Linked DNA regions of Homo sapiens: region 1 is linked to region 2. The links come from fine-mapping of genetic effects on gene expression. A gene starts in region 2. The other region holds a variant in brackets. All regions are shown on one strand. Distances are from middle to middle.

What was found. PIP is the estimated chance that this variant, and not a neighbour inherited with it, causes the effect.
Region 1: its variant is the best candidate, but not a certain one, in a credible set for the expression of FCHO2-DT in whole blood (INTERVAL, PIP 0.74).

The regions. Positions count from the first base shown.
Region 1 is chr5:73,152,870-73,158,249 of GRCh38, forward strand. It overlaps the pseudogene LOC101060067. Among named protein-coding and RNA genes, the nearest start is that of TMEM174, 18 kb to the right of the region's middle. RefSeq lists enhancers at 2,380-2,880, 2,881-3,381. The variant C/T (reference allele first, on the strand shown) is at 2,456.
Region 2 is chr5:72,953,415-72,958,794 of GRCh38, forward strand. It overlaps FCHO2-DT (FCHO2 divergent transcript), which reads right to left and starts at 2,470. Exons shown (of 2, transcript NR_186392.1): 1 at 1,600-2,470. It overlaps FCHO2 (FCH and mu domain containing endocytic adaptor 2), which reads left to right and starts at 2,627. Exons shown (of 26, transcript NM_138782.3): 1 at 2,627-2,715. The coding sequence starts at 2,683. RefSeq lists a silencer at 2,520-3,219.

The sequences.
Region 1 (5,380 bases), 200 kb after region 2:
GCTCTACACTGCCCTCTGGAAGCCAAACCTCTTCTGAACTACAGCAGGCAATTTCCAAATCTGCCAGCCCTTCTCACCAAGAACATTCTGTGTTTTGGTGGCTAAGATTATGATTTTGAAGCAGCGTCATTTGTCTAGAGTAGTAACCGAGGTTCGTTGCCTCACACCAAGGAAATCAAGGATGTGGACACGTAAGGAGTGAGGTTAGGAGCAGAGGTTTAATAGGCAAAAGAAAGAAAAAAGCTCTCTCTCCTGCAGAGATGGGCTCCCAAGCAGGTTTTTCAGTTTCATGGTGAAATGCACAGCGTTTTATAGATGAGCTTGAGCAGACGGTTTCGATTGGTGGGACCAGGTGTGTCATTTACATAGCTTGTAAAGAAACTGGCCATACCACCCTTATTTTTTATGTGATGGGTTCTCTACCTGGCCTGTGCCATGTTGCCTGTTCCTTTATTGTACATGTGGTTGACAAAGAAAAGGGAAGATGGAGCCTCCATGTTGAACATGCCTGACCCCCGGGTAGCCTTTTTCTATTGGCACAGCTGCTGGCATTCTCCATGCAAGCTTCCAGCTTGTTTATCTATGTTTGCAGCTCAATTTTACAGGCTGCTCTTTGTTAGAAAATAAATGATTCGGGGGCTGCTTTTTGTTAAGAGAGAAGTCTTGCCGAGGATTCTCTTACCCTCACTATCTGCCTAAATAATTTATTTTAAGCTCCTGTATTAATTCCTGTTCTGGTTGACGTAATTTGGACCTCAACTCCAGAGTAGCCATCCTCAGCCAGCTCTCGAGTGAGAACTTTTTCAGTTCCACTTTGAGGATGCCATCAGTGACAAACTTCCTCTTCTTGGAGATCTGCACCCCCATCTTGCCACCGTGTGCCTCTGAAATGAAGGGCCAATGCGAGAGTTTTATCCTCTCTGCAGCAGAGTCCTTCTCTTGCGGGCAGGTATCTGCTTGTCTTTAAACAAAGATAGACCCTTTTCTCCTCTCTTGGTCAACCAGTGTCCTCCACTTCTCGAAGTTTCTGCTCTTGAGTTTTGTTTATATAGGACCCGTATGGAAGCTCCTTAGTGCCCCTTGCCCTCTTTCTACACCACGGCACTTCTATTGCAGCCAACAGTCTCGGTCTGCTAGATTCCCTGTTTCTCACTGAGAATCTATTTTTGAAGCTGGCCTTACAGGTCCTAAGTCCCTCCCTGCCAGGATGACCAGCTTGTCCCAGGTGGCTCAGAACTTTTCTAGTTTCAGCACAGAGAGTTTTGCATCCTGGGACCCCCCTCAGTCCAAGGCAAACCAGGATGCTTGGTGACCCCCACCCTGTCTCTGGAAGGGCTGCCCTTGAATCAGTTTCCCACCTCAGGCCCATCGGCCAAGAGAAGGTGATCCGGGTCACCTGGTGTCCAACAAGGCCTCAGTCTTTCAGTAGGGGTGGGTGGCTTCTCTGGGAGAGGGACCATGAATTGGGCCAGCAATGATCAACCTCTCCAGTTAAAACTATACTTAGATGAATTACTCATTAGAAGGGAAGGAAGTGAGGCATTATAAGTATACGTGTAGCAGTTTGATGCAGTAGAAAGCACATTGAATTGGAAGTCAAAATGCCTGGTTTCTGCCTCTGAACAGCAATAAAATCCCAGCATCAAACAGTTCATCTTTCTGAGCCTCAGTTTCTCCATCTGTAAAATGAAAGGTTTAATTTAGGGCTTGCTTCCTTTTTAACTTATGTTAGAGTTACTCCATATTCTTCAAGACATAATCTGCTATCATCATTATTAAATTCTTCCCTTTCCTCTCCTCCCTTCTTCCCTGTTCCCCTTCCTCTCCCTTCCTCCCTTCCCCTTCCTTCTTTCCTTCCTTCCTTCCTTCCTTCCTTCCTTCCTTCCTTCCTTCCCTCCTTCCTCCCTTCCTCTCTCCCTCCCTCCTTCTCCATTCCCAGCACTAATTCCTTTCTTCCCAACAGGCCACTACATCAATGTGAAAGATATTTATCCTTGAATAGGTATGTAGTTCTATAAGATATGATTATTATTTTGTGTATTTATTTAAAATTTACATATATTACATTATGTTATAGTCCTCATTTGCTTCCTAACGTTTCTTACTCAGCACCATTTAAAAATATATCCGTGGTGCTGGCTGTTGGTCTTTAAGACTCCTTCCAGAGTGGCACTTTATGAACCTTGTTTAGTATTGCAGAACGCTCTGTTATCCAAAGTTCTTCTACTTTGAATCAAATTATTGGTGGGCTTTTTAGAGGGGACCAAAGGGACAAGAAAGTATTACTCCAATGTTGGACAACTTTGGTCTGCATGAAAGGACCTAAATGGATTAATATATAGAGGACATTAAAGAGGAATAAATGAAGTACTGGGTGGCAAGAACCGTTGTGAATTCATCTTTGGCCCTTAATCTTGAAACTATGAAGCCATCTATGAAGCCAAAACTATGAAGC[C/T]GAATTCACATGCACGATTCCTGGAACAGCTTACCTCCTATGTGGAGCTGGCAGACATTCTCCAAGAGGAGGCAGGAAGAGTTCTCAGGCTCTCACTCACATATCATCAAGCATAGAAAAACTGCTTAAGACCTCAGCCAGAGATTGAACCCAAATCGGAAGACCTGTCCCCGGGGGGCCAATCTCTGTGGCTCAGAGGAGGCAAAGGAGACCCAGCCGCATCCCTCCCAGAGCGTTCTGTGGTTGTTAGCAGACGGGCTAGTGCCTCGCAGGTTGAGCAGCTCTCTTGGTGGCATTGAGGCTGAGGGAGCCATGTGGAGCCTGGGAATGGGCTGCGGGTGGGGAGCAGCTGTGGAATAGCCCCTCCTGGCTCTGCCTGCCTATGGCTGGGAGAACAGTTTCCATTTCAGGCAGCAGCAATTCACACTGGGTGGTCTCTGCCTTCCCTCCCTCAGTGCCTCAGTGCCACAGGCAACTGCCAGCAGGCTGAGAAAAGCACAGCTCCCCTTGGAGGACAGAGGCCTGTGCGAGGAGGCTGTTCTCTCCCACACTTCTGGCTCACAGGGTCTTCATCTCCACTCAGGCCTCTCAGCAAGCTCTGGAAAGACCTCTCGCAGCTCCGCTGGTGAGGCCTGTGAGCCAGGGCAGGGGCGGGGGTTGCTTTATGTTCCCCCGGTGACACACTTCCCGACCTACCTCAACTTTACAGAGGCACATGTTGACTCTATTCCAGGCCTTAACTATTTCTGTTCCTTTGAACATGTAAAACAAACAAAAACAACAATGAAACACAAAAACCAATAATAACAAATATAATAAAAACTCTGCAAATGCCCCTGAGGGTTTCCAGCCCCGCTCTCCACATCTCAGCCGACTTGGTGTTGAGATGCGTGCTTTCTGCCTCGGGTTGTATGATCTCTGAGGAGGAGATCATGGTGGCTGTGGGATTATATACACACGCTTTACCAAGATGTCTTCCTTTGCAGTGACAGGACTTAAGCTGACTCTAGGAATCAGAGAAGGTTCACTTTTGCCTTCAGGCCTAGGAGCAGCTCATCCTCAGTCCCCAGGCAGTGCCTCCCGGGGCTGCCTTCAGGGCCTCCTGACAAGGGCCTGGGTGCTTTACCCCCACCATAGACTCAAGCACTCAAGGAGAAAGTTTCCAGAAACTGAACAGGATGAAGTAATTATAGCCGAAAGTCACTGAACTTACTACGCTATGTGTTCTCTGTATGATCTCACTTGATCCTGATAACCTTATGATGTAGGTCCCATCATTCATAAATGAGGAAACTGAGGCTCAGTGAGGCTAAGCAGCTGGCCCATTTACATAGCTAGTGATTGGAGAAGCCAGAATTTGATTGTAGAAAAGACTCCAAAGCCTGTACTCTTAACCGTGACATGCATGGAAGCGCGCGCACACACACACACACACACACACACAATTGACATATATGTGCATTCTTTGGTCTCTACAGTGTAATCTTTTTTGTAATATTCACAAATCATACGTTGTTAGAAATGGAAGTCATTTTAGAGATTACCTATCTGACTCCTCCCCAACTTTTACTTCCATAGAAAAGGAAACTGGGGACCTACCTTAGAGAAATAGTTTTCAAACCTGAGCAAGCATCAGAATCACCCAAGGGACTGGCTAAAACACAGACCTCTGGCCCCATCTCCAGAGTTTCTAATTCTGTAGGTCGAGGTGGGGCCCAAAATATATATTTCTAACAAGTTCCCAGGTGCTGCTGCTGCTGGTTCTGGGCCCCCACTTGGAGAACCGCTGCAGTAGAGTAAATTGGACATGTGAAGGCCTGCAAGACCCACTGCAGTGTTGTTACTTGAACGTGCTTAGCAATGTTGATGAGGCCTGGACAAACATGTCCCCTGGTCACTCTTAGCAGACTCATTCGTCCTTTACTAACTCTCTTTGGGTCTCAGCAACAGAAACAGAATGTGGCAGGCAGAATTCTAAAAATGCTCCCCGCTAAAAAAAAAAAAATCCCACATCTTTATTCCTCAAAGCCTGAGAACATGTGGCATCGTTCCTATGATTGTGTTATGTTATACGGCACAGTGGACCCACAAAAAGGGAGTATCTGGGTGGGTGTAATTTAATCACATGGCTCCTTAAAACCGGATAACTTTCCATGGCTGTTGTGGCAGAAGAGTAGGGCAGAAAGGGGGAAATCAGAGAGACTTGAAGCTCAAGAGCTTGGCTAGTCTTGCAGCACTATTGCTGTTTTGAAGATGGAGCGGCCCAAGTGAGAAGGAATGTGGGGGGCTTCTAGGAGCAGAAAGGAATTTCTGGCAGGGAATTGGAACCTCAGTCTTATGTTGCTTAGGACCAAATTCGGCCAACAGCCTGAATGAGCTTGGGAACAGATTATTTCCTGAGCCTCCAGATAATACAGAGGGATGCCTGACCTACAGAACCGTGAACGAATAAATGAATGTAGTTTTAAGCCTCTAAGTGTGTGGTTATTCTGAAGTGGAAACTAACATACAAGTACATAAATTCCTGAGCTCAGAAGCAAGCCCACTGCAGACCTACTCCATCCAGAAGCTTCTCACACCAAGAGCTGGGCCTCTGGGAGGCTCACCTTATCATTTGCTGGAAATGGCAGTGGCTGTGACTTAAATTCCAGCCCCATCAAGGTAGTTTTCAGTTCAGTTGGTGTCTGAGTGCATTTTCTGCTGCTATAAAGGAATACATGAGGCTGAGTCATTTATAAAGAGAAGTTTATTTGGCTTATAATTTTGATGACTGGGCATCTGCCTCTGGTGAGGGCCTCAGGCTGCTCTCACTCATGATGGAAGACGGGGAGCTCATGTGTGCAGAGATCACATGGCAGGAGGGGAAGCAAGAAAAACAGTGGGGAGGCACCAGGCTCTTTTAACAACCAGCTTTACAGGGAACTA
Region 2 (5,380 bases):
TGAGATCGCACCACTGCACTCCAGTCTGGGCAACCAAGCGAGACTCTGTCTCAAAAAAAAAAAAAAAAAAGAGAATGTGTAAAAGATAATGGAATTATTACATATTCAAGGTCTCATCTACCTTGACATTTCTATGATAGATGTCATCATTCATTCATTCACTGAACATTTACTGACTCTTAAGTGACAGGTATTATAGGCAGTGACTTGTACACTGTTGTTATCTATGTTGGTTTTTAATAATTTCAAAATGAAATACATTTTGATAAGCAAAGTCTAAGAGAGTGTGGCACAAACACTTTAACGCATATAAGCTCGGTGGCTCATGCCTGTAACCCCACCCAGCACTACCCACTCAGGAGCTTATCTATGCTCTGCCAGAATGTATGTTCATCCCTGGAAACCTCACTTGAGAGTGCAGAAGGAGGCTGATACCATCCACGCTCTTCCTATACTACACAGTCTTGTCTGAAATTTAGTCACCTTAATCACTGTTTACTATAAAGTTCCACAACTTAAACATCAGGCAATTACAGGATATGGTGTTTCGGCCCTAATGAACCTTGCAAATACCTGAAATACTCAGAATACTTATTTTCATTCCAGATCTACTCCTAAATTTAAGGGGAGCAGAAGAATGCGAATGAAGGCCAGTAACTATTGTGAATACTATACTAAATTGTCTGTAGGTAATAGCCACACATTGGAACACTAACAAAAGGAAAATGTATGCTTGATACTACTGAGAAACAATACTTTGTCATGCAGGAATCTATAGCATTCAAGCTGAGATGAAGGATTTGACAAGTTAATTTGTCTTCTCTCTTACCTAAGCATTTCTGCTGCTCAAATTCTGACTCCAAAGCAGTCTCTGAAATGGGCAGCCATGCTATGTACAAATTTTCACTGCTTTTGGAGTTCACCGTTTGTTTTGAGGACAGAAGACAAAAGATAGGAAGAAGAGTTTTCCTGGGGCCTGAATAGTGTTCTTCACTGGGAGAGGGAATTTATGGTTATGAGCCAGTGTTCAGTATCAGATCACAAGCGGCAGGGGCACCTATTTTTTTTTAAATTAATGTGTGTGTGTGATATGTAAGTTCCTTTAAAGCATGGAGTCCAGGATAGAAGTCTCTCTTGCCCAGGTCTAAGGGTGCGGGGGGAAGGGGGGGGGCGCGGCGGTGGGAGGGAGTACTTTAGTGATACTAGGAATTTAATGCCAAATGTATTTGCTGTGTGACCTAGATGGCTGAATTTTTTAAAAAGTTCTTCAGCATCGAGAAAAATCCAGTTAGACCGATAGCTTAGAGAGCTGTAGCTTATTTCTAAATTTGACTTTCCCTAAAACTAAGTGTAAATGTCAGTGATATGAGGACTTTTTAAAGAAACAAAATAAAGAAACAAGATACACAAAAATAGAGCAACTATGGCCAATCTTGTTTCATCCCTTTTCATCTATGACCTTACTCATACCCCTATCCATAATAAATGACTTTCAGCAAATCCTAGATGTTCTGCATCCTATATCTTTCTAACAGATATTCTTAAAAAGTATGACCACAATACCATTATCCAATTATTCCTTGTTCAACAAGCACTTACAATTTCATCCATGTGAAAGGCACCTCATGATTTTTACTTGAGGATGAAGATAATTTCTCATGAATTCTCATTGTTTTAAGTCACCTGAAGAGGTGTGATATGCTACAATAAATCTATTTGTAGGGCTTGGCTTCAAGAACTGAAGATTCTGGACCTAGCTGATCTGGTGACAGTGAACTTGAGACCTCTAATAGCGTTTAACTATTTTTTTTTAACTTTTGGAAAGCAAGGTGTAGGAAGGGGATTTAGTTTTTCCATTAGGTCGTGGCATGTTAAGACTTGTTTCTTTTTCCAAAATGTTCAAGTTGCTGAAGAGAACTATGGACTATGGGTCAGGAAGTCCGTCGGTTTCGGGTCACATTCCGCTCCCGCAGGCCTGCGGGCCGCCCCAGCTGGTTTGTTCCCGGCGTGTTAGAGGTCAGAGGCCGAGGCCGCACTCAGTGCCTGGGTCTCGCGCAGCTCCAGGGCTCTCAGGCGACACTGGGCGTTTCCTTTCCGGCTTCGGAAAGTTTTGTTTTGGTTCAAGGAAAGGCGCCCTGTTGACCAAAGGCTTCTCAGTCTCCTCCGGGTGGCCAGCGGCCAAGTTTCCTCCAGCCCAGCGAGTCCAGACTATAGTCCGTTCGAGATCCTCGAAGGCCGGGGAAGCGAGTCTTGTGAGGAGAGAAAGCGAGTGGGCAGCCAGCCTGCCGACTCCACTGCCGCTGGCTGGCCCTTCTCTTCCCTCTGTCCCTGGGCCAGTGCCCGTCGCACCACAAACAGTGCGAGCAGTCTCCCCGGTGACTCCTCAAGGACCCAGTTCTCCACCATTCCTAAGAGAACACTCAACCCAGCCGCGCCCGGGATGCAGAGAGATCTACCAACACCCGAGAATGGGGACAGGGCGCATGCGCACACCGTGGCCGTGGCGTCTAAGTGCTCGCCCAGCTGCGGCAGCCGCTAGGTGGCGCATGCGCCCTGGAAGGTGCGGGCCGGTCTCTGGGAAGAAGGCGGCGGCGGCGAAAGGCGGGGGTGCTGTGGGGGCCGGGCCGTGTTTACACAGCGGCGGGCGGGCGCGGACGCGGAACCCGGCGCGGCGGCGGCACGATGGTCATGGCGTATTTCGTCGAGAATTTTTGGGTAAGCTTAGGATGTTGGAAGTCGTGTGTTTCGAAGTCCAAGGCTTTTGGCGCCTGAGCTTGGCCTGCGTGCGCTTCGGGCGGCGGCGGCGGCCCCTCCGGCAGGGCGAGCGTCCTCCTGCCGCGTCCCGCCTGGGTGAGGTCCGGCGGGCGACCGGTCGCCAGCCTATAGGGACTCCCGGGCTCGCAGCCCTATGGGGACGGGGGCTGTCACCGCGGCCCGGGGGCCCGCAGCGGGGCCGCCGGCCACCGGGGCTGGGACAAAGCGCCGGATGGGGCGGGAGACGGGACCCAGCCCCACCGGAGGCTCCCGGTGCCGCGCTCCGCGCGGGGCGTGCGCGGCAGCTCGGACGCGAAGGACGGGCCCGCGGCACAGCCGCCTCCCGCTGCGCGCTGGCTGGGAGCGCCGGGCGGTGGGGTTTTGCCTCCTGCCCTCACCGCGGGCCCCCCATCTGAGCGATCCCTTTTACCTCTGACGGTTTCCACACCAAATCCAGTGCGGGGTTGGGCTGGACTAGCACTTCCTCTCAGCCTCGCAGCTCGGCTCGTGGGTTTGCGCCCAGGACTTTGCCTCTGGGCCTGTTCACAAAGCGTTTAAAAGTTGGATTTAATGTAACTGGACTCCTTGGGCTTAAATGCATGGAGACCTCCCCCTACTCTGTGCTCCTTCCCCTTCCTCATTCTTTCCACCCCTTGTCTTAGCTCAGTATTAGATTCTTCTTTGAGAATTTCTCCGGCTCCCGGTGGAGTATTTTTCTGCAGTTATTGTTTTTTTTTTTGTAATGGGAAGTACAGTTCAGCCATGTACAGGAAAGGAACGTGTTTACTCAGGTATCTTTCGTGAATCCCATTTTATGCCCTGACAGTTGCAAGTACTGCAGGTCCATTTTCGTTGAGATTTAGACATATTTAAAGGGGTAATCTTTTAGCTAGTAAGGAATGTATGTTAAATTCTTAATTCTAAGTGCCTCAAGCATGGTCTTGGTTAGTAATCAGATCAGTTCATAGTTATTTATTTGTCTTGAATGTACCTTGTTTTCCACAAAGAACGTATATACTAGACCTTAGGTGTTTTGTTTTTTAAACAGCTTTATTGAGTTCACATTTCCGTACCAATACACTCATTTAAAGTGTAGTACAATTCAGAGGTTTTTTCATATGTTCATAGAGTTGTGTAAACATCACCATATCAGTTTTACAACAATTTCGTTATCCCAGAAAGAATCCCTAGACCCATTAGCAGTCACTCCCCATTTTCCCCCTGCCCCAGGCCTAGGCAACTAATGTATTTTCTGCCTCTCTGCATTTGTCTAGTCTGGACATATCCTATAAATGGGGCCATGGTGACCAGTTTCTTTCACTTAGCATAATGTTCTCAAAGTTTATCCATGATGTAGCATGTATCACTACTAATTCCTTTTTATGGTCAAATAATATTCCATTCCACATTTTATTAATATTTATCCAATCAGTGATGGACATCTGGTTGTTCCCACTTTTGGGTTATGAATAATGCTGCATGAACATTTTTGTACAAGTTTTTGTGTGAACATATGTTTTCATTTCTTTTGGGAATGGGATTCCTGGGTCAAATCGTAGCTCTATGTTTAACATTTTGAGGAACTGCCATACTATTCTGAAGTGGTTGTAGCATTTTACAATCCCACCAGCAATATCTGAGGGTTCCTCTCCACATGCTCACGAACACTTATTTGTCCTTTTTATTATAATATAGTGAGTGAACGTGAAGTAGTATTAATATTTTATTGTGGTTCGATTTGCGTTTCTTTGATGCTTAACATCACAGTTAATGTGCTTATTGCCTATTTTTATATTTTCTTTGGAGAAATGTCTATTTAGATTAATTGCCCATTTAAAAATTGGGTTGTCTTTTTTTATAATTGAGTTGTAAGAGTTTTTTTTTTTTTAATATTCTGGATACACACCTTATCTGATACATAATGTGCAAACATTTTCTCCCATTCTGTGGCCTGCCTTTTCATTTTCTTGATGCTGCTCTTTGAAGTAACTCATAAGTTTTTATTTCTCGTGAAGTCTTGGTGAAGTCCATCTTATCTATTTTTTTCTATTACTTGTGCTTTTATTGCATCTAACCCAAAAATTATTTGCCTAACCCAAAAATTACGCCTTTTTTCTTGTTTTCTTGTAAGGGTTTTATAGTTTTACTTCTTCTGTTTAGTTCTATGATCCATTTGAAGTTAATTTTTGTGTATGGTGCAAGGGAAAGGTATAACTTCATTCTTTTGCAATTGTGTATCCAGTTGTCCCAGTACCATTTGTTGAAAAGGTTCATCTTTCCCCGTTGAATTGTGGTACCATTGTCAAATATCAATCGACCAGAAATGTATGGATTCATTTCTGTATTTTCAATTCTATTCCATTGTCTTCCCTTACGACAGCCAGTAACACACAGTTTGGATTGCTGTTGTTTGGATTACAAATTTGTTTTGTATAGCAAATTTGGAATCAGGAAGTATGAGTCCTCTAGCTTTTTCCTTCTTTTTCAGGATTATTTTGACTGCCCTGGGTTCCTTGCATTTCCAGATGAATTTTAGGATTAGCCTGTCAATTTTAGGCATTAGGTTTTACAATGGCAATTTATAAAATGTTTTAAAGAGCATTTAAAAATTGATGCTCTTGTAAAT